Homo sapiens: one gene and its partner. The protein of the gene in region 1 interacts with the protein of each later gene in a biochemical or structural test. Each region holds a gene or a part of one and is shown in the gene's direction. Other genes may lie near its edges. The genes, in order: SPTBN1 and CAMSAP1.

Region 1 (3,915 bases):
CTCTTGGACTGTTCCTGACAGAGGGGCAAAGTCATCTGATACCATCAGTTTTCCCTCCTATTGTTCCAGATTTACAGTGTTCTTAGGTCTGGTCTCTCTTGACCTCTCAAAATAGAAATGTTCGTAAAATGTAGCAGAGAGGGACTTTTCATTTTATAAATCATGATGCACATTGTAACTCAGTTGGTCCAGAGACTTCCTCAGAAGTAAGAGTGAAGTAGAAATCTCATCTGGCGAGGATGTAGAATGAGGCCCCCAAATTTCGCTGGTTGATGGAAGAAACAAGAAAATATCAGTGGGTTCAAACTTAAACTCTAGAAGTTGCTTGGGGTCTACTAAGCAAGACAGCCACCTGACCCTGCTCTCCTTATTGGTTTAAAGATGTGGCTTGTAAGCTTTTCAAGTAGATTGTTTTCCCATTGATTGTGTAAGTACAGTAGAGGCATACCAATAAGCTCCTAACAGAGGAAAAACATTCACTTACAGGCTCAGCAACTTCTAAAAGATTTCTTTCAACTTTGAAGTGACCAAGTCTATCACCTTTATTTATTTATTTTTGAGTAGTTGTTGCAGCGGTTTCTTCTTGAAGCTCCAGTTTATATTTTGGAATCTTTCATACAGCACCCCCGCCCACGCTCCCCACTGCCCCCTCCCCCCCACCCTGGCCCCGCTGGCCCTCACCATCTTTTTCTTCTATTCTGCACTTTTTAGTGTAGATTTGACTTACTTATTCCAAGTTTGGTGATCCTTAGTTTGTGATAGCTCTCCTGACTCAGGCCTTCAGGTATGATTTGTTTTGTTCTGGTTTGTTGGCCATCATCTTCCCCTGAAGGTGTGGGGTCCATGGCAGACTAGAGGGAAGGCATAGCTTCATTGCTGGCTCTCTGCTTGTCGAAAGATGATGTGATGCTGAAGTCAAGGCTATAGTCACAGATGTCCTTTTGGTTGCTTCTTGTGCACAGGTGCTAGTATTGTCTCAAGACTATGGCAAACACTTACTTGGTGTGGAAGACCTGTTACAGAAGCACACCCTGGTTGAAGCAGACATTGGCATCCAGGCAGAGCGGGTGAGAGGTGTCAATGCCTCCGCCCAGAAGTTCGCAACAGACGGGGAAGGTAAGGATGGCCCATTCCAAGCATTACCTCCGGGTCACCAGAGATTCATATTTATAGAAACACAGTGGGGCTTTTGAAGTTACTGTGCCACTATACATTCCTGGTGGGTTTGTCATGGGAGCATGAAATACGGTGGAGTGGCCTTCTGAACACTAACTCCATCTTGTTTTTCTGGAATTGATACATCCTTTCCTTAAATACGCAAATGCTGCCTTTGCTTTGAGTGGCTTGGTGTTTGGCAGTGAGACTTTGTCATACCTCAGTCTCTCTGGCCATGCACCGACACCCTGGTGTGGCTGTTCCAGCAGCTCCTGGCTTTCACAGCTGGTTGCATATACCTCTCTTTGGAGGATGTTTAGAATGATTTGGTTATGCTTCGTGTATTTCTAGAAACAATTATATGCAGCTGCCTTTTTCATATGATTCAAGTGCTTTCTTGCAGGAGGATGATCACTTTGTCTGCGGTTTGGCCAAAAAAAAATAATGTTTATCATTGCCCTCACTCCTGTTCTAGTCAAGTTGTTAGAAGGTGCTCCATTGCCTTATCGCATGGCCCTGCATTTACATTTAGCAGTGAGCTGGTAATCATAAGAATATGGGGTGTAGCTTACTGCCTGCCAGTGAGCCTGCACCCATGCTGAGCTCCCTCACACAGCCACGTTCCTTCCTTGATGTTAAACAGGTTACAAGCCCTGTGACCCCCAGGTGATCCGAGACCGCGTGGCCCACATGGAGTTCTGTTATCAAGAGCTTTGCCAGCTGGCGGCTGAGCGCAGGGCCCGTCTGGAAGAGTCCCGCCGCCTCTGGAAGTTCTTCTGGGAGATGGCAGAAGAGGAAGGCTGGATACGGGAGAAGGAGAAGATCCTGTCCTCGGACGATTACGGGAAAGACCTGACCAGCGTCATGCGCCTGCTCAGCAAGCACCGGGCGTTCGAGGACGAGATGAGCGGCCGCAGTGGCCACTTTGAGCAGGCCATCAAGGAAGGCGAAGACATGATCGCGGAGGAGCACTTCGGGTCGGAGAAGATCCGTGAGAGGATCATTTACATCCGGGAGCAGTGGGCCAACCTAGAGCAGCTCTCGGCCATTCGGAAGAAGCGCCTGGAGGAGGCCTCCCTGCTGCACCAGTTCCAGGCAGATGCTGATGACATTGATGCCTGGATGCTGGACATCCTCAAGATTGTCTCCAGCAGCGACGTGGGCCACGATGAGTATTCCACACAGTCTCTGGTCAAGAAACACAAGGACGTGGCGGAAGAGATCGCCAATTACAGGCCCACCCTTGACACGCTGCACGAACAAGCCAGCGCCCTCCCCCAGGAGCATGCCGAGTCTCCAGACGTGAGGGGCAGGCTGTCGGGCATCGAGGAGCGGTATAAGGAGGTGGCAGAGCTGACGCGGCTGCGGAAGCAGGCACTCCAGGACACTCTGGCCCTGTACAAGATGTTCAGCGAGGCTGATGCCTGTGAGCTCTGGATCGACGAGAAGGAGCAGTGGCTCAACAACATGCAGATCCCAGAGAAGCTGGAGGATCTGGAGGTCATCCAGCACAGGTGAGCGGGGCGCTGGTCAGCCACTGGCCTGTTCCTTGTGACCACCAGTGGCCCAGGAGGTGACCACCCTGTCAAATTGCCATTTCAGATTTGAGAGCCTAGAACCAGAAATGAACAACCAGGCTTCCCGGGTTGCAGTGGTGAACCAGATTGCACGCCAGCTGATGCACAGCGGCCACCCAAGTGAGAAGGAAATCAAAGCCCAGCAGGACAAACTCAACACAAGGTGAGCACGTGGCCAGCAGTGTGCCAGCCTCCCACGTGTGGGACTGGGGAGGGTGAGGTCACTCATCGAGCTTTGCTGTTGGGAATTTCCCACATGGGGTCATCGACATTGCAACACTGATGTCATGGCATTGGCACCTGCCTTTTGACATGTCCTTGTTTTGTAAGAAGTGTCTCTCAGGGCAACATCATTGGTTGCAGGAGGATTATCTGAGTCAGCCCAGCATCTGCCCCTCGCCACACCAAAGTTAGGGCCTTGGTTTGACCTGTGTCCAGTGTAGAAGGTATTAAGATGACACCTGTGCTATCCATTTTATAGTAACTTCAGGAACAGGACTCTAGCATGTTTAACACTTAATTTGCCAATGAAAGTCCTGATTGTCAGGGCAGACCTTTGTTCCAGTCTTATCTTTCTGTTGAGTAAACATGTTTGAGTAGGTTATGGCACCTGGCCCCAGTTTTGAAGGTTACCATCAGTCTTAGATTTGGAAAACGTTCATTAGGTAGAGTTCAGAGATGTGTAAAATGTGTCACAGACATGAATTAATTGACTCTGGGAATGGATATCTTGTAATTGCTCACATTGGAGCTCTGTAACACATTCCTCTTCGTGACAGGCTTTTTCCAGATTACATTGCATCCCTGAGCTATTTCCATTATATTTGGTGTTCACAGTTTGAGTGAGATGATTTTCCAAAAAAGCATGTAGTCAAAGCACAGATGGAGAAAACAGATAAGCAGCATTAACCCATCACTGTTCCTTTTGCAATCCAGCCATGGTCAGTCTTCCCTTTTTCACACTCGCTGTCTGCCCCTGCACTCACAGGTGGAGCCAGTTCAGAGAACTGGTTGACAGGAAGAAGGATGCCCTCCTGTCTGCCCTGAGCATCCAGAACTACCACCTCGAGTGCAATGAAACCAAATCCTGGATTCGGGAAAAGACCAAGGTCATCGAGTCCACCCAGGACCTGGGCAATGACCTGGCTGGCGTCATGGCCCTGCAGCGCAAGCTGACCGGCAT
Region 2 (3,915 bases), on another chromosome or scaffold:
AGACTGGATGCCCTGAGCTCTCCTTGGGGGCTGGTCACAAGGCACACTCCCTGCCCAGTGTGCAGCAGTGTGCCTGACGCCTGGGAGGAAACCAGCGTCAGCGTGCAGACCAGCAGTTCAGGCTCAGGAGGCCCTCCTGTCTTGCCAGTGAGTGACTGGGAGCGAGCTCTGCAGATAGCAAGTTCCCAGGTGCCCACCAAGGGCCGCCCAGCAGGCAGGCCTTTCTAGGACAGCAGCCCTCTCAGCTGTGCCACATAAGCTGTGGGCACCACACGCTTCCTTATCGTGCAGGCAGCAATAAGTAAATAAGATGAACCCCACTCCCCACAGTCCCGCTGTCGCTACAAATTAAATGTTTCTTTCTTTTTGGCATCTAATTCTGTTCATATTTAAACACAGTGAGTAGGGTTGAAATCAGTATTATATAGACAGTTTTGGATTCTTTTAAAAAATACGTATTATTTAAAATAATAAACCCCATTATATGCTGATACATTGCATATTTATGAAAAGTAACTTTTCTAAAGCCAAATAAATAGAAGAGTGGCATTGACATAAGAGGGCTGGCATCTCAGCCGCTCGGGCCCTCCGTCCATTACAACCACACAGCCCAGGGCCTTGGGAAGGTTCTGCCGCACACTTGGGAGAGGCGATGAGGCCTTAGCCTTTCGAGGTCGAGGGCTTGACCCTGAGATTCCTGGGAAGGCCTCAGGATGCCTGGGCCGCATGTGGAGAACTGTGAGGGCAGACCCAGGTGCACTCCCATTCCCAGGCGTGTGGAGGGTTTGTTTTTAAAAGTTACCAAAACACTTGAAGATACGTTTTAAACTTTAAAATACAATCAACAAACGCGGCGACAGGCATCAGCAGTTTGTCATACTTCAGATTCTTCTTTTTTTTTTTTTTGAGATGGAGTCTCACTCTGTCGCCCAGACTGGAGTACAGTGGTGCAATCTCAGCTCACTGCAACCTCCACCCCTCCAGACTCAAGCGATTCTCTGAGTAGCTCGGACTACAGGCATGTGCCACCACGCCTGGCTAATTTTTGTATCCTTAGTAGAGATGGGGTTTCACCATATTGGCCAGGCTGGTCTTGAACTCCTGACCTCAAGTGATTCGCCCACCTCAGCTTCCCAAAGTGTTGGGATTACAGGCGTGAGCCACAGCGCCCGGCCCAAACAGCTTTATGAGATATCATTCACATACCGTAAAATTCACCCTTTTAAGTTATACCATTCAGTGGTTTTTAGTACATTAATAGAGTAGCACAACCATCACCACCGCCTAATTTCAGAGCATTTTCATCCTCATAAAAAGAAACTCCACGCCCGTGAACAGTCACCCCCCTAAGTCTTCCCGCGCCCAAGCTCTTGGCGGTCGCCAGTCTGTCTCCATGGATTTGCCTGTTCTGGGCATTTACATAACTGGCATCATAATTATATGGCCTTTTGGGTCAGGCTTCTTTCACTTAGCGTGATGCTCTGAGGTTTCTCAGTGTAGTGTGTACCGGACCTCCATTCCTTTTTGTAGCTGGGTAATGCTCCATTGCATGCTCCGACCCCATGCTGTTCATCTCGTCATCTGCTGATGCACACTTGGGTTGATTCTTCTTCAAACATTTTTTATTGATAGGGAACAGATGTGCATGCTTTTGGGGGTACATGTGATATTTTCGTTTCTACTTTTTGCCTGTGAAGGGATAGTGCTGTTATTTATATGCAGTGTTTTGTATGGATGCGTGTTTTCATTTCCCTTGAGTACATATGTGAGAGAGGAATTGCTGGGTCCCACGGTAACTGCCTGATGGTTTGGAGAAGAGCCAAGTTGTTTTTCACAGCAGCTGCTGTGCTCTGTATCCTTCTGGCAGTGAAAGAGCCCCATGGCTCGCCAGCACTCGTTACCGCCCTGCTTCTGGGTTCCAGCCGTCCTTGTGGGCATGACGCGACGTCTCTTTCTGACTGGCATTTCTCTGGTGGCTGATGATGAGCATCTTTTCATATGCTTTTCCATTTAATCGTAAAAGCATTCTTTTCCCCCTTGCTTGCTTAGACTTCTTAAGTAAAGTCTCAATGGCATATAATGCTCCCGTACAGGGGTCTGCTGTAATTGTTTACAACAGGCAGGCCGTAGCTGACGGGTGGGAGAGCTTCCCACGGAGCGGTGCTGGTTGAGCCGCTGTGGGAGCCCAACTCGTGGCAATTGGAGTGGCCCTGAAGTGTTTGTCTCTTCCCCTTTTCTCTCTCTGCACAGGAGCTGGAGAAGTGTGATGCCAATCACTACATCATACTGTTTCGTGATGCTGGCTGCCAGTTCAGGGCGCTTTACTGCTACTATCCTGATACTGAGGAAATCTACAAACTCACTGGCACGGGGCCAAAGAACATCACCAAGAAAATGATCGACAAACTGTATAAATACAGCTCAGACCGAAAACAGTTTAACTTGATCCCAGCCAAAACCATGTCTGTCAGTGTGGACGCACTCACAATCCACAACCACCTGTGGCAGCCCAAGCGGCCTGCAGTGCCAAAGAAGGCCCAGACTCGTAAATGACCCCGGTGCAGCTGGCGTCCAAAGGGTGACCCAGACTCGTAAATGATGCCCTTGTGGCTGGCATCCAGAGGGTGCCACGGGGTCCTTATTTATTGTTTTCATCTATTTGGGTACGAAGTGTGCAAAGTCACAGACCTTTTGCAAAGAGGTTTCTAGACAGCAGAAGAAAACCCCTCTCTCAGCGCTCATCTCACGCAGAGGATGCCAGGCAGGGTGAGGATGGGGGAGTAGATGCCGCTTTTGCAGTGGCTCGCACTGCTGTGGCCACTGCTGACCACTGAGGCTCCCAGCGGAGGGTGTTCACAGCCAGGTCCCGGGCCACGGAGCTCCCTTACTTGAAGTTCTCCTTCAGCATAGATTAGACGTGATCCACTTTGCTTTCTTGCTTCTCACCTCGCCCCCTTGCACATTGCCTGACACCCTCATATTGGCCAGCTGTAATCTCGTGACTATGGGACTGAGGCTCAATCTTGGCTTGGGGTGTTTGAATGTCTATAGCAAAGGAATTCATAATGGGAAATCTTTTTCATTTGAGAAATTGTATGATATTTATTGGTTGTGTCTACTGCCAACATTTATATCCAATTCTAAGATTTCTGAAAAAAAATTCTTATCCCTTGCTGCTCAGAAAAAGTTTACGGAAAACACCAGTTCACTAAAAGCACCGAAATCTGCAAAGCCTGTCTTCCGCTAGAACAACGTCTACAAATGTGAAGATGATGACTTCTGGCACGCGGTCATGAGGGTGGGGAATGGCACTAGGAGCTGATGTTTGCCTCATTTAAAGTAGGCAAGCCGAGCCAACTGCAGCCATCATTCATTAAGTTTTGGGTAGTGCTCTAATGGTTTGTTCACTTTAATAAAGACAGATTTTGGTAAAGTAGAATATTTTTCATTCTGAGCATGTTTGTCCCAAAAGGTGATGCACTTAAGCTGACAGTCCCTTCAGTGGTTTTGTTAGGTCACGGCTTGTCCTGTCTGGATTCTGCATCTGGAAGCGCTGCATGCTCTCAGAGGAGCGTGCCGTTTCCCCTGTAGATGGATACTTTTGTTTTGTTGCCTATTTAAAAACAATTAAGTGGTTATTTGCAGTTATTTCAGAACTCCAAGTAAGTGGATGGCTTTGGGTTCTTTCTGCCTTGGTCCCAATGGTGTTGATGCTTCTGTGGAGCGCGGACATTCCCAGGAGCAGGTGCGTGCCAGCCATGGCTGCCAGACACTGCTGCAACTGACCAGCTGCCGGAAGATTCTGGAGCCACTAACATTAGTTTTGCACATATTTTCTTGGGAGTGTTACTTGAATCTATCTCAAACTGCAGAAAAAATCAAAAGATCAATAATTGGGAGAAAAAGAGACAAATT

Evidence for each region.
Region 2: the proteins of SPTBN1 (region 1) and CAMSAP1 form a complex in vitro, tested with the Homo sapiens proteins (one study listed by IntAct).

The regions. Positions count from the first base shown.
Region 1 is NC_000002.12:54,627,135-54,631,049, forward strand, and holds part of SPTBN1 (spectrin beta chain, non-erythrocytic 1), read left to right. Parts: intron 1-962; coding exon 963-1,116; intron 1,117-1,798; coding exon 1,799-2,669; intron 2,670-2,757; coding exon 2,758-2,895; intron 2,896-3,720; coding exon 3,721-3,915. UniProt on the Homo sapiens protein: Fodrin, which seems to be involved in secretion, interacts with calmodulin in a calcium-dependent manner and is thus candidate for the calcium-dependent movement of the cytoskeleton at the membrane.
Region 2 is NC_000009.12:135,809,947-135,813,861, reverse strand, and holds part of CAMSAP1 (calmodulin-regulated spectrin-associated protein 1), read left to right. Parts: intron 1-2,250; coding exon 2,251-2,553; 3' UTR 2,554-3,915. UniProt on the Homo sapiens protein: Key microtubule-organizing protein that specifically binds the minus-end of non-centrosomal microtubules and regulates their dynamics and organization. Specifically recognizes growing microtubule minus-ends and stabilizes microtubules.